3 separate regions of the Homo sapiens genome follow, and regions 2 and 3 are each linked to region 1. The links come from fine-mapping of genetic effects on gene expression. A gene starts in region 1. Each other region holds a variant in brackets. All regions are shown on one strand. Distances are between the middles of the regions. Region 1 holds the start of TCAF2 (TRPM8 channel associated factor 2). Region 2 overlaps LOC112267988 (a long non-coding RNA gene). Region 3 has its middle 17 kb from the start of CTAGE6.

The links. PIP is the estimated chance that this variant, and not a neighbour inherited with it, causes the effect.
Region 2: its variant is the best candidate, but not a certain one, in a credible set for the expression of TCAF2 in fibroblasts (GTEx, PIP 0.73).
Region 3: its variant is the best candidate, but not a certain one, in a credible set for the expression of TCAF2 in thyroid (GTEx, PIP 0.55).

What each region holds. Positions count from the first base shown.
Region 1 is chr7:143,616,993-143,625,555 of GRCh38, reverse strand. TCAF2 (TRPM8 channel associated factor 2) reads right to left here and starts at 4,582. Exons shown (of 8, transcript NM_001363538.2): 1 at 4,536-4,582. LOC101928466 (a long non-coding RNA gene) reads left to right here and starts at 6,847. Exons shown (of 4, transcript XR_007060573.1): 1 at 6,847-8,387. RefSeq lists a silencer at 4,518-4,677.
Region 2 is chr7:143,843,967-143,852,529 of GRCh38, reverse strand. It overlaps LOC112267988 (a long non-coding RNA gene), which reads right to left. Exons shown (of 3, transcript XR_007060571.1): 2 at 8,028-8,168. It overlaps TCAF1 (TRPM8 channel associated factor 1), which reads left to right. Exons shown (of 9, transcript NM_014719.3): 9 at 1-1,155. Among named protein-coding and RNA genes, the nearest start is that of TCAF1, 54 kb to the left of the region's middle. The variant C/T (reference allele first, on the strand shown) is at 4,538.
Region 3 is chr7:143,736,492-143,745,054 of GRCh38, reverse strand. No RefSeq gene overlaps it. Among named protein-coding and RNA genes, the nearest start is that of CTAGE6, 17 kb to the left of the region's middle. The variant G/A (reference allele first, on the strand shown) is at 4,580.

The DNA of each region.
Region 1 (8,563 bases):
TCTGCCTGGAATCTTCCTCTCACAGATGCCCACATGGCTCATTCCCTCACTTCCTTGAGGTCTCCTTTCAAGTGCTACCTACCAGACCAGCCTTCCAAGCCGGCCATGAGCTTGTTTGCACTCATCTCTATTCCCCTTTCATCTTGGTCATCCTCCGTGTTGCAGAAAACTGCATTTCTTTGGTTCTCCTGTTCCCTGGATCCTGGTGGGTTCAGCCCATGGGAGAGAGAGGTAGAAGACTGAAATCAGGAAGGAAGAAGGAAGGAGTTTAAGTGCTTGCTTCTCTCTTCAGGCTGTATTTCTGGTAACCACAGTGTCTTCTCTGAGACTCCAGCTTCTAGCAGACAGACCTTTCATCTGTGGTTCCAGCTCCTGCTGGGAAGGCATAGCATGGCTCCAGCTTCTACCAGGTGGCCGCAGCACCTGGACTTCAGTAATACCACCATCTCCCTCTGCTGGTTCTGCTGTTGCTGATCTCTGGGTTACTTGCTGTCCCCTGTGTGTATTTTCAGCTCCTCTATCATGGGTATAGTCAATTCCCCATACTAAATCCCTTCTGCTAGCAACGCCAACAAATCCTGACCAATCCAACTTGGTCTGACTGATAGGACTTCCCTGAACATCTTAAATAAAATAGCCTCCATCAGCCTTCCTGTTGTCATGCTATCCACTTATATTATCATCTTTCATGGATCTTAGCAATACCTGATAGAGCACATATATATTAGTTTCCTTAATACCTATCTCTCCCCTGGAATACAAACCTCATGATGGCATGACTTGCCTGCCTCGATCTCTGCTAGACCCCCATTGTCCAGAATGCAGCATGATCAACAATCGGTGCTCACACAAACAAACAAATATTCTTTCATGCATTTAAGAGGTATTGATGAGCACTCTCTAGGTTCTATTTACTAGACATGGAGATAAAGTGGTAAGACAAGCTTTTCTATTCAGCTTTGGCCACAGGAGGGAGTGGCAGTGAGGGCCCAGCCTCTCTTGTGTCTTGGTGCATTTTAATCATCCTGCTTTTGATTTGTGGTGGTTCCAAACTGAGTGGAAAATCACCTGTATTGCAATGGAAGCTTGTTGAAGAGGGGAACCAACTCTATTGTTTATCCTGAGTCAGACTCCCTAAGAGGGGAACAAACACTCACCTGACATGGAGTGGGATCTTGGGCACCTTCTTAGAGACCTTGAACCGGTCTCTGTCCCCATAGGTGTCAGTGAAGTACACTCCGGCTACACTTGTCACCTTGTTCCCAGGGAACCTGGAGAGCACCTTGTCAGGGCCGTGCTGGCTGGCCCAGTACCAGGCCTGGCCCCCGATTAACAAGCCCCCTCCATGTTTCACAAACTGGATCAGCGTTGCAGTCAAGGTGTCATTGTAGGCATTGATACAGTAAACCCCTAGGGGCTCTCCTGGTTCTGGCTTGACCTGTGCCTCAAGCCCAGCATCCTGTAGGATGTTTACTAGAGGTGCCAGGGATGGACGCACTCCCACGGGAGCCCCAGGACAGGGACAGAGCCAGCTCACTGCATTGAGGAGAAATGAAGCCAAGCCAGCATGCGACAGGTAGCCCTCATGGGACACAACCACGAGGCGGCCTCGGCCGTAGGAGGAGGCAGCAATGAGCACCTGGCCCTTGTCATTCACCATCACGGGGAAGGCGGCTTCTCCAATAAGAAGGAGTTCACTGGGGATGGGGCCTCTGGGGACATCCCAGCATGTCACTCCATCCATGAGGGCCTCAAACGCAGCAGCAGCAATGGTCGCCATGGTTCTATCAGCTGCTGCAGGGGGAAGCAAAGACTTTCATGTATTTAAGAGATACTGATAAGCACTGCTGGTCAGAACAGATGAAGGAACAGGTGAAAAAAGCAAACAACTAAATGCATTCACCTCCAAATTTTACTGGATTCCCCATTGTGGGCCAAGCACTGTTCTAGCACTGGGAGTACAGCAAGAAACAAAACAGATAAGGTTTCCCTTTTCGTGATTTGAATATTTTAGAAGGAGAAAGATAATGAATAAATAGGTAGATAAACAGATAAATAAAATGCAACAATCACTATGATGAAAATAAAACACAATGATGTGACATGGAGGAACTGGAAGACTACTTTAGATTGGGTGATAGGAAAGGACTCTGACAAAGTGGCATTGAAGCTGAAACCTGAAATGCAGTGAGCAAAGGGCATTCCAGCAACGAGACCACTTTGGGGTGGCTGAGAGCCAGGAGCAGGGAGGAGCAGGACCCCAGGAGGAGGGAGGGACGGGCTAGATCCTGCAGGGCCAGTAAATCAAGGTGATAGTTAAGTTCGTGTGCCTGAGTGGACACAGTGCTTGATTTTTTTGAACAGAAAGGTCATAGACCTGTCAAAACATGCCTTTCTTCTGACAGCTTTGCTAAGTTGGAAAGTGCCCCCTAATTTATCAAATCTGCCCTAATGGAGAGGACCCTCCTCTATTTGGTAGCATTATGCAGTTTCCGGAGGTCTTTTAAAATTGGCTGTGCCTAACACTGAGACTATTTGTCCCTTTAAGCAGCCCCTCTTGGATAAATGACTTCAGTCTCAGTTTCCCCATCTACAAAAAGAGAATAATACAGCCATGGGAAGATTGTTTTTGAAGATTAAAGGAATATGGATAGGCCAGGCGCAGTGGCTTATGTCTGTAATCCCAGCACTTTAGGAGGCCGAGGCCGGTGGATCACCTGAGCTCAGGAGTTTGAGACCAGCCTGGCCAACATGGCGAAACCTGTCTCTACTAAATCTACAAAAAATAGCTGGGCATGGTGGCGTGCACCTGTAATCCCAGCCACTTGGGGAGGCTGAGTCATGAGAATTTCTTGAACCCTGACGGTGGGGGGCGGAGGTTGCAGTGAGCCGATATCGCACCAGTGGACTCTAGCCTGTGCGAGAGAACAAGACTCTGCCTCAAAAAATAAAATAAAATAAAATAAAATAAAATAAAGTAAAGTAAAATAAAATAAAGCAAAGAATATGTCTAAAAATGCCTTGTCTGGGGTTGGTACACATACAGTGAGCACGGAATAAACGAGAGTGTCTGTCCCTTTGCTGTCCTTTTAAGTTTCCCGGGTTGCCGAGGGCAGCGTTGCAGATTGCAGTAGTGCAGTAGTCCCCTGGCTGCCTGTGCCGCCTCCCTTTGCGCGTCTCTGACGAGCCCACTGTAAGGGACTTTCCTCTGTGCTCTGATGGCTTCTCACCTCTGCAGGTGCACAAGGCAGCCCTGAAGTAGCGGTGAGTTGACACTAGGGTGAGCTTCGCCCAGTAGAGCGGGGATTCACAGAAGAGTGCCCCGTGGCTTTCCCGAGGTGCCCATCAGAGGTCCTCGGAAGGCACCCGGAGGAAAGGAGCGCCATGTGGAAGACCCTCAGCCACATGCTCCTCCTGGCTTTCCCTTTTTTCCTTGTCTCATTCTCTCCACTTCCTCATTTGGGCTTTTTGGTCTCACTTACCCCCAAAAAATTACCTGCAGGTAAGCCCTTGCATAAGGCTTTGCTTTAGGGCAGAATCTAAACTAAAACACACACCAAGCCCTTGAGCCACAAGTGCCTCCTTCCTCTCTCCCTCCTGCTTCTATATGCAGTCAACCACCTCATTTGGTTAATCTCTCACCATCTCTCTCAAACATCAGTCCCTTTAGTTGGCAATCATTCCAGACTAAACCAATATGGTTTTAGTCCCCAGGATGTATTCTCATCCACAATCGTCCTCTACAAGAACTCTAACAAGAACCGTTACATTTCGTCCACTCTCTCTAAGGTGAAACTTGCAGAGCGCCTCAGCCTGGCTTCTCCAGGGTCTGGCATGCCAGTGATTACTGGACGTTTTTCCTGCTACTTTCTTCCACTAAATCTCTCCAAGCTCGGAAAGGTTGGCATTCTGAGCATGCCCTGCATTTCCTGTAGAATTCCATCTCTTCCCCTCTTCCCTTCCTATCCGCCACCTTTTTCTTAATACTGCTCGCGGGAAAGAAATTCACAAAAGAGAGCCAATACTCGGCAGAGCATTGAGAATGCGGGTACCTGATCTCAGCCTCAGAAGTTACCAGTGGAAAAAAGCAGCCGAGAGAGATCCGGAAGCCTGAGCTCAAGATCGTGCTAGCTACCTCCCAGAAGACAAGCGACGTCTTTCACTTCTGGGGCAGTACCAGTTTGACAGGATAAACAAAAACAGACAAAAAACCTCAGATGAGTAATATGTCCCGGAAAGCTGACCCAGCATTCCGCAACGAAATGTGCCCTCGTGCACGCACACACCATGCACATCTTTGTCAAATTCGTAATTTACAAGTTCAAATAGGAGGGAGAAACGTGTTTTGAGACAAACTGCAAATAGCACCAGACTAACAAAACGAAATGAAACCAAAGACCTAGACCTAAGAAGGGAGGGACACCCCCTGACGCCGGGTATGGTCTGGGGCCTCCAGCACTTTGCGGCGACCCCCAGTGCCCTAGGTGCTCAGCTACCGCCCCCACCCCAGGACCCGCTGGGATTGGAAAACTCACCCCTGAGCAGTGCGGATACCTAGGGACTGACGGACAGGCTCTGCAGTGGCGCGCGGGGGACGGGTCGGAGGCGAGGCGGGGCGGGGCGGTCCCGGAGGCGGGGCGGTCTCGGAGGTAGGGGCCGTCCTGGAGGCGGGGCCGTCTCGGAGGCGGGACTGTCCTGGGGACTGAGCTGTCTCGGAGGTGGAGTCCTGCGGTCCCGGAGGCGGGTTGTACCGTAGGCGGGGCTCTCTCGTAGGCTGGCCGGTCCTGGAGGAGAGGCTGTTCTGGCGGCGGGGCTGTCTTGGAGGCTAGGAGGTCTCGGAAACTGGGCTGTCCCGGAGGCGGGGCACAGGCTGGGGTGAGGCGGAGCCGACCCTGAGGCGGGCCCGGGGCGCGGCTACCGCTCCCTGAGCCACGCCCGTGGTCTCCCGTTCCATCGGTGGACCCCACCTCGGGCCGTGCTGCGGGCTCTCGGGGCGCCTACCAGGTGAGCGACCCCGCCTTCCCGGAGGGATGCTTTGGCCTGCATGGGGCCCCAAACCGGCTCCCTCAGGGTCTCTGCGGGTTCTTGGATGCGAGAGGGGACCCAGCCAGTTTGCTGTCGCACTTGATAAGAAAAGCAAACCCTAAGTCTCCAATAAACCATATTTGGGGCGAATAGTTCCCTAACAACAACGTATGCCACGGGGGAGGCCCCGCGTGGAATCAGGCTCCCTTCCCTCCGATCTTGGGGTGGGCTCAGCAGAGCCGGTAGCCGCCGCGTCGCCTCCGTCGCTCGAGCCTCTGCGTGGAGGGCTGCCCCCTAGTGGTCAGCTGCGGGCCATGCACTTCGAGCCCGGTGGATGCTTATGGCCATGGTGCGGGGTGCTCAACTAGGGCATTTTTCTCTCAAAGTATCCACAGAAATGCTGCCCAGCAAGTTATATTCTTGCTGGGAGGGAAACGTGCCTGTGGCATCACTAACACAGATTCGTCCGTGCATGGCTGGAGAAATTAAGCTAAAGCTATAGAGTGGCTGGTGCTCGAATTTCTACGCAAGAGAGGTCAGAAGGTGAAAATCAAGGTGGAAGGGTGTGGTCAGGAGGAGGATTTGGTGTAGTCTGGAGTTTAGGAACGTCTTACCTAGGAAAGTGATGACTGTGCTAGAATGAGGGGAAAAAAGTAGTCTGTCTGCATTTTGCCCACCATTGAGTCCTCATTGCCTATTTTCATTTCTGACATAGAATAGGCTTTAGTTTCTTAATAAATAACTAAATATATGCTAAATAAATAAGGATATAGTGAACGTCCAAAAATATCTGTCGAATTAGTGAGTTAATAACTGACTCTTCGGAGGACTAGTGGAAATCTGATTGGCAGAGGACCAAATACATTCAGGTTTCAGAAATAAAGAGCAAGGAGAAACTTACACAGAAAAGAAATTGTGGATAAGACTTGCCAGAATTTGGAATAATTCCGGCTAGAAATCCAACGTGCGGTGAAGTACGTTGAGTTCTTAGGCTTCATATCAGGGAACAACTGACCTTTGGGAGCTGAAGTGGGAGATGGACATCAAAGAAAGTGGGTCAGTAAAGTTCCACGTTAAAAGCTGATTCAGGCCCGGGTGCGGGGGCTCACTCCTGTAATCCCAGCACTTTGGGAGGCCGAGGTGGGTGGATCACCTGAGGTCAGGAGTTCAAGACCAGCCTGGCCAACATGGAGAAACCCCGTCTCTCCTAAAAATACAAAAATTAGCCGGGCGTGGTGGCACAGGCCTGTAATCCCAGCTACTCGGGAGGCTGAGGCAGGAGAATTGCTTGAACCCGGGAGGCGGATGTTGCAGTGAGCAGAGATCATGCCACTGCCCTCCAGCCTGGGCGACAGAGCGAGACTCCGTCTCAACAACAACAACAAAAAGCTGGCTCGGTATCTTTTGTGTGTTTGTACTCTTAGGTTTTAACCAGTCTCCACCTACATCAACCTCACTCCTCATGGTAAAGTACTACTATTGTTCTAAATTAACTCCTGAGAGTATTTTGGTGTTGCTCTAATAGAAGAAAGGGGCTTTAAACAAAGGTGATTTTTCCAGGGTCAGAGAGCAGAAAGTACCTGCCATTTGGGAGCAGGAGCTGCCTGAGGAATGGAACCTAACAACATAGGAACGGCATAACGGTTCCTAAAAAAAAAAAAAAAAAAAAAAAAGAAGAAAAAAAAGATTAAAGATGGTAACCAGCATTTACGTTCTGACTAAAGGGTGTCCGAGAGAGAATACAGTCATGGGTTCTTAGTTTCTGTTTTTGGTTAGGCGAGTAAAACCCCTTCCTCATCCCTCTTTTCCCCTTTCACTAGAGACAGAAACTAAAAACCGTGAGTTCAGGCAGCTAGAAACCTAAAATAAAAGAAAACGGAACAACAACAACAACAACGAAAATAAGGTGGGTTGGATAAGCTTCGAAATGGTTACTGCTTATGCAAAGGTGCAGGCCCCAGATCTTTCCTTTTACTTGGGAGAAAACAGACGCCATTCAGTGAAAGTCAACATATCCTTACTGGACACTTATTCTGTGAGGCACTCTGGGAGATAGAAATGCTATTATGGTCAGTAAATCTAGAGAGGAAAAAAGACAAGAAAACAACTATACCAAAATTGGCTACGAATCAGGTGCAAGGGCACATAAAAGAAGCAGCAATTATTTCTGATCAAAGGATTAGAGAAGAATGTGCACAGAAGGTGACACAGAAACTCAGCTTAGAAAAATGTATATTTGCGGGGAGATAAAGGGGAAGGTATTACAATGTGAGGCTGTATAAGATTCCAAAGCACAGAGATATGAATGTGAAAGGCTTAATTTGAGAAAGACAAAATGTTCATAGTGACTGAAACTTGTTAGCAGAACTTGCATAGTGCTAGCTCTAAAGAGAAGTTTGGGCTCGGTTTAGAGGGACTTTGGCTGCCATACTAGGGAGTTTGGATTCCATTCTACAGTGTGGAGGAAGATTTTTTAAAAGCACCATTTAGTAAACACTGTGGTTGCCTCCTCAACATCTATTCCCTACACTACCCCTATTGTCCTTTCTAACCAAATCCATTTTTTTTTTAAATCAGATAATCCACCTCTCCTTTATGAGATTCAGGGGACAATGAATTCATCTCCATTTCCAAGGATAGATCTGTATTAGCTTAAATCAGGCAGGCTAACTCATACTTCTTGTGCTTCCATGACAGACTCTTTCTGGGTTATACGTAATAAATATACATAAACAATATTATACTTCATTGTCCAGCATATACAAGAGGCAAACACAAATCAGAAATATTATCTTTACCAGTGGTACATGAGTCCATTTTTTGTCAAATAGAGAGCAATTGCTGCAGTAATTGCAGTTTATCACTAAGCCAGATGCAGGGGTTACTCATACATATGCCTTCTAATTGTGGGCTACTATTAATAGTCACTGGCCTCCTTCTTAAATTATTTTCAGTCATGAGCTTAACTTAATGTGGTACCATATATTCTTTCTTTTAAGGACCTTAAGAATCTGGGAAGAATTAGCCACACTCTAATTTAGGAACAGAGATGGATGAATCCACCTATGGACATTTACTGGTATGAGTCACTGGGGAAGTTCACTAAGTCACTATTTAAGATGATCCAGAACAGGTGTCTACAGCTGCCTTAAGAATGAGTACTATGGTGGTGATGAAAATGTTCCTCTCAGATGTCCAACTGCAGGGGGTGGGTATGAAATTGCCAGATGGCCCCAGCTGGTGTGCTCTGGAATCCTTGGCGCCAAGGCCATGCTGCCAGGGGCTTCTCCAGGCTGGTGATCAAATGTAGTGAGGATCCTCAGGCAGGCCCATTCCTGGAAGACATGGGACTCTCCCGATAGGTGAGTTTGGCTCAAGGACTCCTCATGGTCCTGAAAGAAACTCTCTGAGACCTGTACTTCAGTGGAAGCCTGTCTTTCCTTTGCTGTCTCCTTCCCAAGGGTTAAACCTACATTGCAGTCTAATGGTGGCTCTCCCGGCCTTCTCTGGCTCCCTCGACATTTTCTCTCACAGGCAT
Region 2 (8,563 bases), 230 kb before region 1:
GTCAGGCAAATTTTCAGAAAGTCTCCTTTGCACCCTTACTGAGGAAGTATCTTGAGGAAATTCTCCAGCAAAATGAGGATGAAAACCAGGAAAGAAGAAGAAATGGGATCCATAAAACAGTGGACCTTACTTAGGATGTCTCATTCTAGAGTGACAGCCAAAAGGGTATCTCACCCTAGAGTGACAGCTATCCAGCAGACTAATTTCAGATGAGAGCATACTGTCTCGGGCTTTCTGGGAAGAATGTGCATTCAGTGCCATAGATAGTATCATTGAAGAGCTGGGATGCTTGAGAAGATTATTTAGTCAAGAAAAAAGAAAGACAAATCAACAATATGTCAAAAAATTCAGGTCCAATTATAGAGCAAAATAAAATGAGGCATGATTTTGAGTTATTCATGAAGAATAAGAAGAGGCTTGATAGGTACATTTCCTTTTCTATGGCACAGGCATGATGATATTGGGTGTGTAGGGAAGAAAATATCCTAGCTTATACTAGGCTCCCAGTAAGAAGTATTTAAATAGCCAAAATAATGTGGATATCATTTATTAGTATTCAATGTTCAGATCAGCCTATTAACAAAGTGTGAAAGGTTTCATTTTTTATTCAGAACTGAAGTTGAAAGTAATTAATGCTGACAAAGGGAAAGAAAGCAGAAAGAGATTGAGAATTAGAGGAAGAGAAGTGGAATCAAAGGTAGAGATACTTATATATTCAAAGTGGGGATGAAAAGATCTTCAGTTAATGGAACAAGAACTAGAGGATTAGTGTATTGTTCAAAGCTATAAAATCAAACCAATAGATGTATTAAAAAGTGATGTAACTATCAGACATTTGGAGAGAGATGGACAAAGGAAAGTGGCGATAGTGTAAGTTAAATCCTTATCTTTTGTAATGGGGAATTATTAAAGATGTTGTAAAGTCAGTAAGTCAAGAAATTATTGCTCAAACATATTATTTAAAGTTAGAAAGTTACCAGACGATCTAAAATAAATATTGTTAAAAGCATTACCTCTAGGGAATGGGATTTAGATTTAAAAAGGGTGGGATGGGAAACTGTGTTTTTCATTTTAAGTCCTTCTGTACTATTTAATTTTTTACCTTGTGCATGTATTACTTTGAAAAAATTTTTAATAAACCCAAATAAAAATCTTCCAGTGACTTCACATTGATTAAGATGCAACCCAGCTAAAGCCTTTAAAATGGTTTTCAAGGTCCTCAAGTATCTAGGTCCACTTGATGTGTCCAGGCTCATGATATCTCCCCACAAGTCTCTATTTCCAACCAGATTAAGTATCTTCCAGTTATTAAAACACACTTCACATTCTTTTGTTTGTATAGGTGTTCCACAAAAAACAAAGCCTACTGCTGATCTCACCATGTCTGCTGAGTAAGCTTACCATCTAGTGGGTTTTAATATTTGTTGAATGAAGGAATGTCCAATACAGCATTGAATGAAGTTTGCCAACTTCATTCTTTTCCAAGAAGGCCTTTGATGTTTGCCCCTGTTCTGGGAAACATTTCAAGAAGGACCATCCAGGGCCCTAAGCTTTCCTGCACTCCCCTTCATTTGACAGCTTTAATAAGTTTTAGTCTTATATGAGGCCAGCTAGTGTCAGAGCATTTCTGTCCATCTGTCAGTCTCCCTGGTGTACTCTTTGCTACTTTCCCTGAACATCGTAACCTCTTTTCAGCTATTTTTAACCCTGTACTTGGGAGAAACAGCCAACTATCTAGTGGAAATCTTTAGGCCACCAAGTTTCTTTTTTTTAAGTTTTATTTTACTTTTAATTGACTCATAATAATTGTACATATTTATAGGGTATAGTGTGATGTTTTGATACACGTATATATTTTGTGATGATCAAATCAGGGTATTTAGCATATTTTTCACCTCAAACATTTATCATCCCTTTGTGGTAAGAACATTCAAAATCCTCTCTTCTAGCTATTTTGAAATATACAATATAATATTGTTAACTATAGTCACCCTACTGTGCAATAGAACACCAGAACTTATTCCTATCTAACTGAACCTTTGTACCTGTTGACCAGTCTATCCCCATCTCCCCTGCCCCACTACCCTCCCAAGCCTCTGGCAACCACTATTCTACGCTCTGCTGCTATTAAATCAACTTTTTAAATTATAGAATCCACTTTTGTGTGAGATTGTACAGTATTCGTCTTTACATGCCTGGCTTATTTTACTTAACATAATGTCCTCTGGGCCCAATTACGTTGCCACAAATGACAAAATTTCTTTTTATGGTTGAATAGTCTTCCATTGTATATATACACCACATTTTCTTTATCCATTCATCCACTGATGGACACTTAGGTTGATTCCATGCAACTACTGTGAATAATGCTGCAATAAACATGGGAATGCAGATATCTCTTCCACATAACTGATTTTATTTCCTTTGGATATATACTCAGTAGTGGGATTCTGGATCATATGGTACTTCTATTTTTTAACTTTTTTAGGAACCTTCATTCTGTTTTCCATCATTGCTGGACTAATTTACAACAGCATATGAGACTTCCTCTTTCTTCACATCTACCCCAACATTTGTTATTTTTTGTCTTTTTGATAATAGCCATTCTAACTGGACTGAGGTGATATGTCATTATGGTTTTATTTGCATTTCCCTGATGATTAGTGATGCTAAGCATTAGTATGTCTTCTTTAGAGAAATGTCTATTTAGGCATTTTGCCCATCTTTAAATGGAATTATTTATTTTTCTGCTATTGAGTTATTTTTCTATATATTCTAGGCATTAACCCCTTGTCAGATGCATAGTTTGCATATGTTTTCTCCCATTCCTTAAGTTAACTTCAATCTGTTTCCTTTGCTGTACAGAAGCATTTTAGTTTAATATAGTACCATTTCTCTATATTTGCTTTTGTTGTATGCTTTTGAGGTCTTATTCAAAAAATTCTTGCCGAGACCAATGTCATGAATTGTTTCTCCCATGTTTTCTTCTAGGATGCTTACAGTTTCAGGTCTTACATTAAAGTTTTTAATCAATTTTGAACTAATTTTTACATATGGTAAGAGACAGGGGTCTAATTTTATTCTTCTACATGTGGATATTCAGTTTTCCCAGTGCCATCTATTGAAAAGCCTCTCCTTTTCCTAATGCATGTTGCTGACACTTTTGTTGAAAATCAGTTGGCTGTAAGTGCATGGATTTATTTCTGTTCTGTATTCTGTTTCAGTTATCTATGTGTCTATTTTTATACCAGTACCATGTTGATTTGGTTACTATAGCTTTATAGTATATTTTAAAGTCAGGTAGTGTGATGCCTCGAGCTTTATTTTTGCTAAGGATTACTTTGGCTATTTGGGGTCTTTTGTGGTTCCATAGAAGTTTTAGGATTTTTTTTTCTATTTCTGTGAAGAATAGGGATTGCATTGAATTAGTAAATTGCTTTGGATAATATGGACATTTTGACAATATTAATTTTTGCAATTCATTATTATCTTTCTATTTATTTGTGTCCTCTTCAATTTATTTTATCCATATTCTATAGTTTCCACTCAAGATGTTTCACCTCCTTTGTTAACTATATTCCTGGGTATTTATTTTATAGCTATTGTCAGTGGATTGCTTTCTTGATATCTTTTTTTAGGTAGCTTGCTACTGGCATATAGAAACACTACTGATTTTTGCATGTTGAGTTTGTATCCTGCAACTTTATTGAATTTATTTATTCTAACAGTTTTTTGTGGAATCTTTAGGATTTTCTATATATAAGATAATGTCATCTGCAAACAAGGACAATTTGACTTCCCCCTTTCCTATTTGGATGCCTTTCATTTCTCTTGCCTAATTGCTCTGGCTTGGATTTCCAGTAGTATGTTCAACAAAAGTGATAAATGCGGCATCCTTGTCTTATTGCAGATCATAGAGGAATAGCTTTCAACTTCTTCAGTATGATGTTATCTATGAGCTTCTCATTTATGGCCTTTATTGTGTTGAGGTATATTACTTCTACATCTCATTTGCTGAGAATTTTTATCATGAAGGGATGTTAAATTTTATCAAATTTTTTTCTTTGTCTATTAAAATGATTATGTCATTTTTGTCCTTCATTCTGTTAATGTGATGTATCACATTTGTGATTTACATATGTTAAACCATCCTTGCATCCCTGGGATGAATCTCACTTGATTGTGGTGAATTATTTTTTCAATATGCTGTTGAATTTGTTTCACTTATATTTTGTTAAAGATTTTTGCATCTATGTTGATAAAGGAGATTGGCCTGTAGTTTTCTTTTTATCAAGTTATCCTTGTCTGGTTTTGATAATGTTGGCCTCATAGAATGAGTGTGGAAGAATTTGCACCTCTTCAACTTTTTAGAATAGTTTGAAAAGAAGTGATATTATTATTTACATGTTTGGTAGAACTTAGCAGTAAAGTCATCAGTTCCTGGGCTTTTCTTTGACGGGAGACTTATTATTACTGATTCATTCTTGTTACACATTATTGGCCTGTGTAGGTATTTTATTTCTTCATAGTAGTTCAA[C/T]TTTGGTAGGTTGCATGTGTCCAGGAATTTATTTATTTCTTTTAGGTTTTCCAGTTTATTGGCATATAATTGCTCATAAAAGTCTTCTATGATCCTTTGTATTTCTGTGACATCTCCTTTTTTAGCTCTGATTATATTTATTTGAGTCTTCTCTTTTTTGTTAGTCTAGCTAAAACATTTGTTTATCTTTCAAAGGACCAACTTTTTGTTCTACTGATTTTTATATTATTTTCAGGCTCTATTTCACTTATTTCTGCTTGATCTTTATCAGTCTTCTCTTCTAGTAGTTTAGGGTTCAGCTGGCCCTCGTTTTTCTCATTCCTTGAGGTGCCACATAAAGTTTTTATAAAAGATTCTTATACTTTTTTGATGTAGGCATCTATTGCTATAAACTCCCTCTTAGAATAGCTTTTGCTGTATCCCATAGGTCTTGGTACATTATGTTTCCTTTTATTTGTCTCAAGGAATTTTTAAATTTTCTTTTTAATTTCTTTATTGATGCCCTGGTTTTGTAAAAACTTGTTTTTAGTTTTCACATATTCGTATATGTTCCATAGTTCCTCTTGGTATTCATTTCTAGTTTTTATTGCATTGTGGTAAGAGAAGATACTTGATAAGATTTTGATTTTTTTGATTGCTTGAGATATGTTTTGTGGACTAACATATATTCTATCGTGGAGAAAAGTTCCATGTGCTGTTGAGCAAAATGTACATTCAGTAGTTATTGAGGGGAATGTTTTATAAATATCTGCTGGGGCTATTTGGTCTAGAATGTAATTTAAATCTGATAATTCTTTGTTGATTTTCTATCTAGATGATCCATCCATTGCTGAAAGAGGGTGCTAAAGTCCTTTTTTATTTTATTTTAATTTTTCTCTCCCTTTAGATCTCATAATATTTGCTTTATATATTTACTTTATATATTGGGTGTTCTGGTGTTGTGTGCTCATATACTGACAACTGTCCTAACCTTCTGCTGAACTGATTTCTTTATCTTTCTTTATATAATGACCTTCTTTTCTCTTTTGACAGTTTTTTACTTAAAGTCTATTTTGTCTGATGTAAGTATTACTACCCCTGCTTTGTTTTGGTTTCCATTTTCACAGAATTTCATTTTCTCTTCTTTCACTTCAGTCTATGTGTGGCCTTATAGGTGAAGTGCCTATCTGGTAGGCAGCATGTTGCTGAATCTTGTTTTTTTTTTTTTTTAATTTAATCCATTCAGCCACGGCGTATGTTTTAATTGGGAATTTATTTCATTTACATTCAAAGTTATTATTGATAGGTAAGGACTTCTGCCATTTTGTTCATTATTTTCTGGTTGTTTTGTTTATCCTTTGTTCCTTTCTTCCTCTCTCATGTTTATCTCTGTGGCTTGATTAGGGTATTTGTTGTGTTAAGCTTTGATTCCTTTCTCTTTCTCATTTGTATATCTGTTGTAATTTTTTCTTTGTGATTAGTATTGGGGTTACATTAAAAATCTCTCATACTTATAATAGACTATTTTAAGCTGATAACAAGTTAACTTTCATTGCATACCAATACTCTAGACTTTCATTCTGCACCCAAATTTATAATTTTGTTGCTTTAATATACATCTTTATATATTGTTTATTCCTTAACAACTTATCATTGCTATAATCATTATTACAATTTTCACTTTTTGGCATCCCACAGAGCTGCATTTTTTTAATTATTATTATTTTTTAAATGGGGTCTCATTATGTTGCCCAGGTTGGACTCAAACCCCTGGGCTCAAATGAGCCTTCCATTTCAGCCTCCTAAATAACTGGGACTACAAGCACATGCCACAGCACCCAGCTGTTTTGGCCTTTAACCTTCATACTAGAGGTTTGAAACATTACATATCACCATTGCAGTAATGAAGCATTATGAATTTGATAATGCATTTATCTCCAGCAGTGAGATTTATACTTCATGTTTTTTTATGGTAGCAATTATCATGAAAACTTTTTTTTCCAATAGAAATACTCAAGCATTTCTTGTAAGTCTGGTCCAGTGGTAATGAGTTCCCTCAACTTTTGCTGATCTGGGAAAGACTATTTCTCCTTCATTTCTGAAGCAAAGATTTGCTGGTATAGTATTCTAGGCTAGCAGCTTTTTTTCTTCTAGTATTTTAAATATATCATCCCATTCTCTCCTGGCCTGCAAGGTTGCTGCTGGGAAATCTGCTAATAGTCCAATGGCAATTCCCTTATATGTGACTTGATGTTTTTCTCATGCTGCTTTTAGTATTTTTTTCTTTGTCTTTGACTTTTGACAGTTTGGTTATATGCCTCAGAGAGGACCTCTTTGAGTTGAATCTTTGTGGGATCCTTTGAACTTCATGGATCTGGATGTCCATATCTCCCCAAGACTTGGGAAGTTTTCAACTATTACTTTGTTAAATAAGCTTTCTTTGCCTTTCTTCATCTCTTCTTCTTAAGTTGCCAAAATGCAAACATTTGTTCACTTATGGTGTCCCATAAATGCCATAGGCTTCTTCATTCCTTTTTTTTTTTCTTTACCTCTGACTGGACTATTTCAAAAGGCCTGTTTTCAAGTTCAAAAATTCTTCTGTTTGATCTATTTTGCTGTTGAAGCTCTCAATTGCGTTTTTTTATTTCATTCATTGAATTTCTTGGCCCCAAGATTTCTATTTTGTTCTTTTTTATGATATCTCTCTCTTTGTTGAATTTCTCATTCAGATCATGAACTGTTTTTCCCGATTGTTGAATGATCCGTTTGTGTTCTTTCATGTCTCACCAAGTTTCCTTAGGCTCACTATCTTGAATTCCTTTTCAGGCAATTCATAAATTTTTATTTTTTTATTGGGGTCAGTTACTAGAGAATTATTGTGTTTCTTTGGTGGTGTCATGTTCCCTTGCTTTTTTATGTTTCTTGTATCCCTGCACTGGCATCTGTGCATCTGATGGAATAATCACCTTTTCTAACTTGGTAGCATAACTTTCAGCGGAAAAGACTTACACCTGCAGATGTGTCCTAGCATGTTGGTTGGGTAAGGTACATTTGTTTTTGTTCTGGGTGGATGCAGTAGTGTAGTCTCCATGCAGCTTCTTTAGCTGTAGTTAATGTCAGTGGTGCCTGCAAGTACCTCAGTGGCCTTGGCTGCAGAAGTTTGTGTGGCTGGTATGCCCACTCAGCTGCTTGTCCCCTGAAGGCTGGGCACTTAGCTGGTCTGTTTTCTGAGGATCCATGGCTGGTAGGTTCTCCTTCGGTGCTTATCTCTTGGTGGCTGCATAGTGAGCTGGTCTGTGCTCTAGGGAAGTGCAGGGCTGGTTGTCCAGTAGCTCTGCTCAGTTGCTGCTCCTCTGGAGGCAAGGCACCAGACTGGTTCATACTCACTACCAGGTTACCAGGTTTTTTGTGTCCTACTATCCCTAGTTTCTTGGTAACTGTTCCTTCTCCATCTTCATTAACATTTCTGTCTGAAGGTAAATATTTGTATAATACAAAGACCTTTTCTTACCTGAATTAGCATCTGTCCTATTTTCCATGTATCATAATAGAGATTTACCCTCACAAATGGGAGTAGTTTCCAGATTGCCCATGTTATCACAGAAATAACCCAAATTATTTTATCTTCTGCCACACCACTGAGTCTGAATTTCTGTAAAGAGAAATTGAAATATGTCATGAGTTTACTTTCCTCTGTTGTCTAACTCCCATAGTCAACTGGAGCTCTCTGATGAGTATTGGCCTTGCAGCCAATCTTCAAAGCAGTATTTATCAGAAACACTTCCTATCTCCTCTTCACGGGATTAATCTGATCTATTTAGTGCTTAAAGCAATGTCCTCACCCAAGGTCAAAACCTCACCTAATATATGTACCTAACAGGCCAACAGGTAACTAGGCCTTAGATGTTGACTCTTTTTTGCCAACAAAAGTAGCAGACTCTATCCCTTCTTTCAAGACTATTTCCCTCCTCTGTTCTCTACTCCTTACAAAGCCTTTGTACTCCTGCTTGGCTTCTACTCTTAAAATGATTTCTTTCTTTGACCCAC
Region 3 (8,563 bases), 120 kb before region 1:
TCCAGTTCCTATGCCACCAAGGCCCTGGGTTTCAAGCACAAAACTGGGCAGCCATTTGGGCAGACACCAAACTCGCTGCAGGAATTTTTTTTTTTTTTCCCATAACTCAGTGGAACCTGGAACACCAGTGAGACAGAACTTTTCACTCCCCTGGAAAGGGAGCTGAAGCCAGGGTGTCAAGTGGTCTGGCTCAGTGGGTCTCACCCCCACAGAGCCCAGCAAGCTAAGATCCACTGGCTTGAAATTCTCGCTGCCAGCACAGCAGTCTGAGCTCTACCTGGGACGCTCAAGCTTGGTCGCGGGAGGTTCATCCGCCATTGCTGAGGCTTGAGTAGGCGGTTTTACGCTCACAGTGTAAACAAAGCCGCTCTGAAGATTGAACCGGGTGGAGCCCATCACAGCTCAGTAAGGCCACTGTGGACAGACTGCCTCCTTTCTGGGCAGGGCATCTCTGGGAAAAAAAAAAAAAAAGCAGCAGCCCCAGCCAGGGGCTTATAGATAAAAAACCCCGTCTCCCTGAGATAGAGCACCTGGAAGGAGGGGTGGCTGTGGGCGCAGCATCAGCAGACTTAAACATCCCTGCTTGATGGCTCTGAAGAGAGCAGCGGACCTCCCAGCACAGCCTTGAACTTCACGCTCTGCTAAGGATCAGACTGCCTTCTCAAGTGGGTCCCTGACCTCTATGTCTCCTGATTGGGAGACACCTCCCAGTAGGGGCCAACAGATACCTCATACAAAAGAGCTCTGGCTGGCATCTGGCAGGTGCCTTTCTGTGACAAAGCTTCCAGAGGAAGGAACAGGCAGCAATCTTTGCTGTTCTGCAGCCTCCGCTGGTGATACCCAGGCAAAGAGGGTCCTGCAGCAAACTCCAGCAGACCTGCAGCAGAGAGGCCTGATTGTTAGAAGGAAAACTAACAGACCGAAAAAAATAGAATCAACATCAACAAAAGGATGTCCACTCAGAGACCTCATCCGAAGGTCCCAACATCAAAGACCAAAGGTAAATAAATCCACGAAGATGGGGAGAAACTAGCACAAAAAGGCTGAAAATTCCAAAAACCAGAAGGCCTGTTCTCCTCCAAAGGATCACAACTCCTCACCAGCAAGGGAACAAAACTCAATGGAGAATGAGTTTGATGAATTGAGAGAAGTAGGCTTCAGAAGGTGGGTAGTAACAAACTCCTCTGAGATAAAGGATCATGTTCCAACACAATGCAAGGAAGCTAAGAACCTTGAAAAAAGGCTAGATGAATTGCTAACTAGAATAATCAGTTTGAGAAGAACATAAATGACCTGATGGAGCTGAAAAACACAGCACGAGAACTTCGTGAAGCATACACAAGTATCAGTAGCTGAATCGATCAAGTGGAAGAAAGGATATCAGAGATTGAAGATCAACTCAATGAGATAAAGGCAGAAGACAAGATTAGAGAAAAATGAATGAAAAGGAATGGACAAAGCATCCAAGAAATATGGGACTATGTGAAAAGACCAAATCTATGTTTGATTGGTTTACCTGAGAGTGACACAAAGAATGGAACCAAGTTGGAAAACACTCTTCAGGATATTATCCAGGAGAACTTCTCTAACGTAGCAAGACAGGCCAACATTCAAATTCAGGAAATACAGAGAACACCACAAAGATACTCTTTGAGAAGAGCAACCCCAAGACACAGAATTGTCAGATTCACCAAGGTTGAAATGAAGGAAAAAATGTTAAGGGCAGACAGAGAGAAATGTCAGGTTACCTACAAAGGGAAACCCATCAGACTAACAGTGGATCTCTTGGCAGAAACTCTACAAGCCAGAAGAGAGTGAGGGCCAATATTCAACATTCTTAAAGAAAAGAATTTTCAGCCCAGAATTTCATATGCAGCCAAACTAAGCTTCATACATCAAGGAGAAGTAAAATCCTTTACAGAGAAGCAAATGCTGAGAGATTTTGTCAGCACCAGGCCTGCCTTATAAGAGCTTCAGAAGGAAGCACTAAACATAGAAAGGAACAACCAGTACCAGCCACTGCAAAAACATACCAAATTGTAAAGACCACCAACACTATGAAGAAACTGCATCAACTAGCAGGCAAAATAACCAGCTAACATCATAATGACTTGATCAAATTCATACATAACAATATTAACCTTAAATGTAAATGAGCTAAATACCTCAATTAAAAGACACAGACTGACAAATTGGATAGAGTCAAGACCCAGTGGTATGCTGTATTCAGGAGACCCATCTCACTTGCAAAGACACACATAGGCTCAAAATAAAGGGATGGAGGAAGCTACCCAGAAAAAAGGAAAGCAAAAAAGAAGCAGGGATTGCAATCCTAGTCTCTGATAAAACAGACTGTAAACCAACAAAGGTCAAAAGAACCAAAGATGGGCATTACATAATGGTAAAAAGATCAATGCAACAAGAAGAGCTAACTATCCTAAATATACATACACCAATACAGGAGCACCCAGATTCATAAAGCAAGTTCTCAGACACCTACAAAGAGACTTAGACACCCACACAATAATAGTGGGAGACTTTAACACCCTACTGTGGATATTAAACAGATCAACAAGACAGAAAATTAACAAGGATATTCAGGACTTGAACTCAGCTCTGGACCAAATAGACATCTACAGAACTGTCTACCCCAAATCAACAGAATATATATTCTTCTCAGCACCACATTGCACTTATTCTAAAATTGACCACATAATTGGAAGTAAAACACTCCTCAGCAAATGCAAAAGAATAGAAATCATAACAAACAGTCTCTCAGACCACAGGACAATCAAATTAGAACTCAGGATTAAGAAACTCACTCAAAACCACACTACTACATGGAAACTGAACAATCTCCTCCTAAATGACTACTGGGTAAATAGGTTCATTTGGTCTATAGTGCAGATTAAGTCTGATTTTTTTTTGTTGATTTCTGTCTGGAAGATCTGTCCAATGCTAAAAGTAGGGTGTTGAAGTCTCCGGCTATTACTACACTGGGGCATATCTCTCTCTTTAGCTCTAATAATATTTGCTTTATATATCTGGGTGCTCCAGTGTTGGGTGCATACATATTTAAAATTGTTACATCCTCTTGCTGAATCGAGCCCTCCGTTATTATATAGTGTCCTTCTTTGTCCCTTCTTATAGTTTTTGTCTTAAAATCTATTTTGTCTGATATAAGTATAGTGAATTCTTCTCTTTTTTTGGCTTCCATTGGCATAGAATATCTTTTTCCATCCCCTTATTTTCAGTCTATGTGTGTCTTTATAGGTGAAGTGTGTTTCTTGTAGGCAACAGATGAGTGGGTCTTGTTTTTTCAAGATAACCTGACTTCAAGTTTATTAGCTCTTTATTCTGCTTGCTCAATTCTGCTATTAAAAGACCCTGATGCATTCTTCAGTATGTCAATTGCATTTCTCAGCTCCAGAATTTCTGCTTGATTCTTTTTAGTTATTTCAATCTCTTTGTTAAATTTATCTGATAGAATTCTGAATTCTTTCTCTGTGTTATCTTGAATTTCTTTGAGTTTTCTCAACACAGCTATCTTGATTTCTGTGTTTGAAAGTTTACGTATCTCTGTTTCTCCAGAATTGGCCCTGGGTGCCTTATTTAGTTTGTTTGGTGAGGTCATGTTTTCCTGGATGGTGTTGATGCTAGTGGATGTTCTTCATTGTCTGGGCATTGAAGAGTTAGGCATTTATTGTCGTCTTCAATGTCTGGGTTTGCTTGTAGCTGTCCTTTTTGGGAAGGCTTTCCAGATGCCTGAAAGGACTTGAGTCTTGTGATCCAAACTGTATCTACTTTAGAGGGGCATCTCAAACCCAGTAACATCATGGTTCTTGCAGACTTGTACAAGTACCACCTTGATGGTCTTGGACAAGATCCAGGAGAATTCTCTAGATTACCAGGCAGAAATTCTTATTCTCTTTTCTTACTTTCTCCCAAATGTACAGAATTTCTCTCTCTCTGTTCTGTGCCACCTAAAGCTGGGGGCGGAGTGGCACAAGCACCCCTTTGGCCACCACCACTATGACTGTTCTGGGTTAGACCTGAAGCCAGCCCAGTGCTTACTGGGTCTCACCCAAGGTCTGCTGTAACCACTCCCTGGCTACTGCCTACATTACCTCAAGGCCTTGGGACTCTACAATCAGTAAATGCCAAAGCCAATCAGGCCTATGCCCTTCCCTTCAGGGCAGCAAGCTCCCCTAAGCCCCAGAAGTGGGTCCAGAATGCCATCTGGGAGTCAGGGACTAGAGTAAAAACCCTTAGATGTCTACCTGGTGCTCTCTTGTATTGCAGCTGAACTGGCACTCTAACCACTAGATGCAGTCCTTCCCACTCTTGCCTCCCCTTTCCAAAGGCAGAGGAGCCTCACCCCATAGCCACCACCACCCAGGCCACAAGGAGTACTGCCAGACTACCACCAAAGTTCCCTTAAAGCCCAAGATCTCTTAAGTCAGCTTGTCATAAATGCTACCTGTCCTGGGACTCCCATGTTAGGGCAGTGGGTGCTCCTCTGGCCCAGGGCAGGTCCAGAAATGCTGTCCAAGAGTCAAGTCCTAGAATTGGGGACCCC[G/A]AGAGCCTGACTGGTTCTTTATCCTTCTGTGGCCATGCTGGTACCTAAGGTGCAAAACAAAGTTCCCTTTACTTTTTCCTCTGCTTTTCTCAAGCAGAAGTTTTGCCCCAGAGCCACCGCAGCTAGTAATATCCTGAGTCTCACCTGAAGCCAGCAAGCCTCAAAGGCTCACCCAAGGCCCTTGGTGTAGTACTTGGGTATTGCTGCTGGTTATTCAGGGCCCAAGGGCTCTTCAGTTAGCAGGCGATAAATGCTGCCAGGACTGGGTCCTTTCTTTCAAGGCAGCAGGTTCCCTTCTGGCCCAGGGTGTGTGTAGAAATGTCATCTGGAAGCTAGGGCCTGCAGTGGGGACCTCGTGACTCTGACTGTTGCCCTGTTTTGTTGTAGCTGAGCTGGTATCCTAGGTGCATCACAAAGTCTTTCCCACTCTCCCTTTTCCTACCTTCAACTGGAAGAAAGAGAGGTCTTTCCGAGCCATAAGTTGTGCAGCCTGGGTTTATGGGAGGGTTGAAGCCAGCACTCCCTTAGCTGCCCCAGCTAGTGTTTCTGTACGCCACATGCAGTCCCAGTTCACTGTCTCTGGGCCTAGTTCAGCACCAGGACTCACCTAAGAGTTTCAGTCTTTATGGCCCAGACTGCCTTTCAAGTTTACTTGGAGATACAGAGTGTTATAGCCCTCGGTGGTGAAGTTTGCAGGCACTCAAGTTCTAACTGTTGGAATCAGTGATTCTCCTCTGGCTAGGCCTGGTTTAAATGCTCCCTCTGTGGGTGGGTGTCAGCTGAGTTTGGTCTGGTTTTCCTTTCTGCTCTAACAAGACAGCACTGAGTTCAATGCCTCACAATTGCTGTATTCTTCCTTCCCCAGCACCTAGAGACGCTCTCTGCACCACGCCATGATTGCTGAAGGGTGCAGGAGGGGTGGCATACTTGATTTAGGACTGTTTTTTTTCTATCTCTTCAGTGCTTGTTTCAGCCATATGAAGTTAAAACCAGGTACTATGAGGGCTCACCGGATTTTTGGTTCGTATGAAGGTATTTTTTCTGTGTAGATAGTTGTTAACCTGGTGTCCTTGTGGTGGCAGGGCAGACTATCAATGGAGCCTTCTATTCCGCTATCTTGCTTTGCCTCCTCCCCTCTGGAAAACTAATTTTTAAAAAATCAATTCTCGGCCGGGCACAGTGGCTCATGCCTGTAATCCCAACACTTTGGGAGGCCGAGGTGGGTGGATCACAAGGTCAGGAGTTGAAGACCAGCCTGGCCAATATGGTGAAACCTTGTCTATACTAAAAATACAAAAATTAGCTGGGCATGGTGGTGGGTACCTGTAGTCCCAGCTACTCGGGAGGCTGAGGCAGGAGAATCACTTGAACCCAGGAGGTGGAGGTTGCAGTGAGCCAAGATCGTGCCACTGCACTCCAGCCTGGGCGACAGAGCGAGACTCCACCTCAAAAAAAAAAAAAAATTCAAGTCTCCACTAATTGATGCATATTCTTAAAAAATTACTTAGAATCAAAATCTCAACAGGGTTTTTCATTATTGTAGTTGTTTACTCACTTGTTTTAGTGGAATGCAACAAGCTGGTTTAAAAATTTAAATGGAAGCACAAACAACCAAGAATAATTGTGTGTTCTTGACAAAAACTAAGGTAGAATAATTAGCAAGATTTATTATGAAGATATTACAATAGTATAGCATTGGCATAGAGATGAAGAAAAAAAATAGAAAAGAATAGAGAGCCTGCAAAGAGATCCACACAGATCCAGACTTTTGGCCCCGTAGATGAGGCAGAAAGAGTGAACCTTTCAATGAACAGTGCTATAATTAGGAATCCATATTTTAAAAAACTACAGTTGTATTCCTAGTTCACTATGCCCAAAACTCATTTAAACTTAAAAATTTATACAACTCTTTGAAGATAATATAGAAAAATCTCTTTGTGGAATTTGGGTAAACAATTTTTTTTACTCATGGTACAAATAGTATTAATCATAAAAAAGATTAATAACTTTGACTACTTTAAAATTAAGAAGTTGTGTTTATTAAAATACACCACAAGAAGAGTGAAAATTGGCCCAGAGTGGGAAAAGCTGTTGGCCACACATGTAACTGACCAAGTTTATATATCTAAAACATTGTGACATACAGAAAATCCGATAGAAAAATACACAAGAAAATGGAATGAGCACTTCAAAATAAAAGCAAAAATCAAATGTTTAGTTAATATATGCAAAGCTGCTTAACATCATTAGTAATGAGGAAAATGCAAATTAAAACCACAATAATATATTACTATGCACTCATCACTTTGGAAAAAAAAGTATTTCATAATATCAAGTGTTCCTAAGGATCTAGAGCAATGGAAACTCATATACTCTAAGTGATATGATTTATCTTTGACTTGTCTTTATCTACAGCTTGGTTTTATCTAAGAAGGTTGAAGCTATGCATATTCTACGATACAGCAATTCCTTTCCTAGGGTATGCCAGAGAAACTCTCGCACAGATATACATGTAAAGGATGTTTGTAGTATCAGATAGGCCCCAAATAAAAACAATCAAAAACCAATCAGCAGCAAAATAGATTAACTGATTGTATTATAGTTATATAACTGAGTATTAGGCAGAAAGAAAAATGAAGTAGAGCTACACAAATCAACACAGACGATGTCACAGTATTGCACTAAAGAAGCAAGTCATAAAAGATTACATATAATATAACTTTCTTGTATTCTTATACAGTTTAAAACAAGTTAAAACTAAACTATGTAGTTTAAGTTTGTGCACATAGGTAGTAAAACTAAAGGAGCAAAAGGAATGATCACAGAAGTCAGATTAGTGTTCCATCTGGTGGTAGGAGAGGGACAATGAACTTGGAGGAACATATGGAGGACTTCAATTATTGGCAACATTCTATTTCTTAATCTGTTGCTGATCTGATTGTTCCCTTTCTAATTATTATTTAAATTGTACATATGCTTTTAGATACATTTTTTATGAGCACAGTGTATTTCATTAAAAAAAGAATATTGTTGGGTTGCATCTTCTGACACTAAAAGTAAATTGGTTTGGGAAATTTTTATGGATAACACAAGTAGAGAGCATATTGACCAGTCAATTGCTTCATGGGAAGGGTAACATAAATATCTCTTTTAAATTAAAACCACGGCAAGAGACTGTGTTTGCCACAATGGGAACAATTTCACTGTTTCAACTGGTGATCAGGAGCTGAAAGGTTTTCTAAATGGCCACAAGGGAGAGACAAAGAACAAAGATTCTATGCAGAGGACACAGAACTTAAAATGTCGAGGGTTCATTCAAGATAGGAGTGACTTTAATTCCCTTTAGCAGTGCGTGTTATTCCATTTTAACAATATTTGTGAGCAGTAGGAGCTTTGACGGTCCCATTTAGTGTGACCAACCACTAAGGCTTTAATTTTTTCTGAAACTGTTTCGAAATACTAAGTTTTCAAATAAGTCAGGGACTTTAAGGCATTCAGGGGAGGAAATACAAGCAGGGTCATTTTAAATAAAGGTAGGGTCATCTTTAAGGCTGGTCGCTGTTGCTCATGCCGGCAATCCCAGCACTCTGGGAGGCCGAGGCTAGGTGGATCATGTGAGGCAGGAGTTCGAGACCAACATGGCCAAACCCTGTATCTACTAAAAATACAAAAATTAGCTGGGCATGGTGGCAAACACTTGTTGACCCAGCTATTTGGGAGGCTCAGGCAGGAGAATCACTTGAATGCAGAAGGCAGAGATTGCAGTGAGTTGAGATTTCATGACTGCACTCCAGCCTGGGCAACAGAGCGAGACTCCATCTCAAAAACAAACAAAACCACCACCACCAACAACAACAATAAAAACCCACTTCTTTAAAACTTAAAAGTGACCATTATTATTTCCCTAAAGTATTCTAGGGTGATTTCTGCCTCTTGAAATGTCTCCAGTTTGTTGGGAATTTAGATTTTACAGCTATTGGAGCT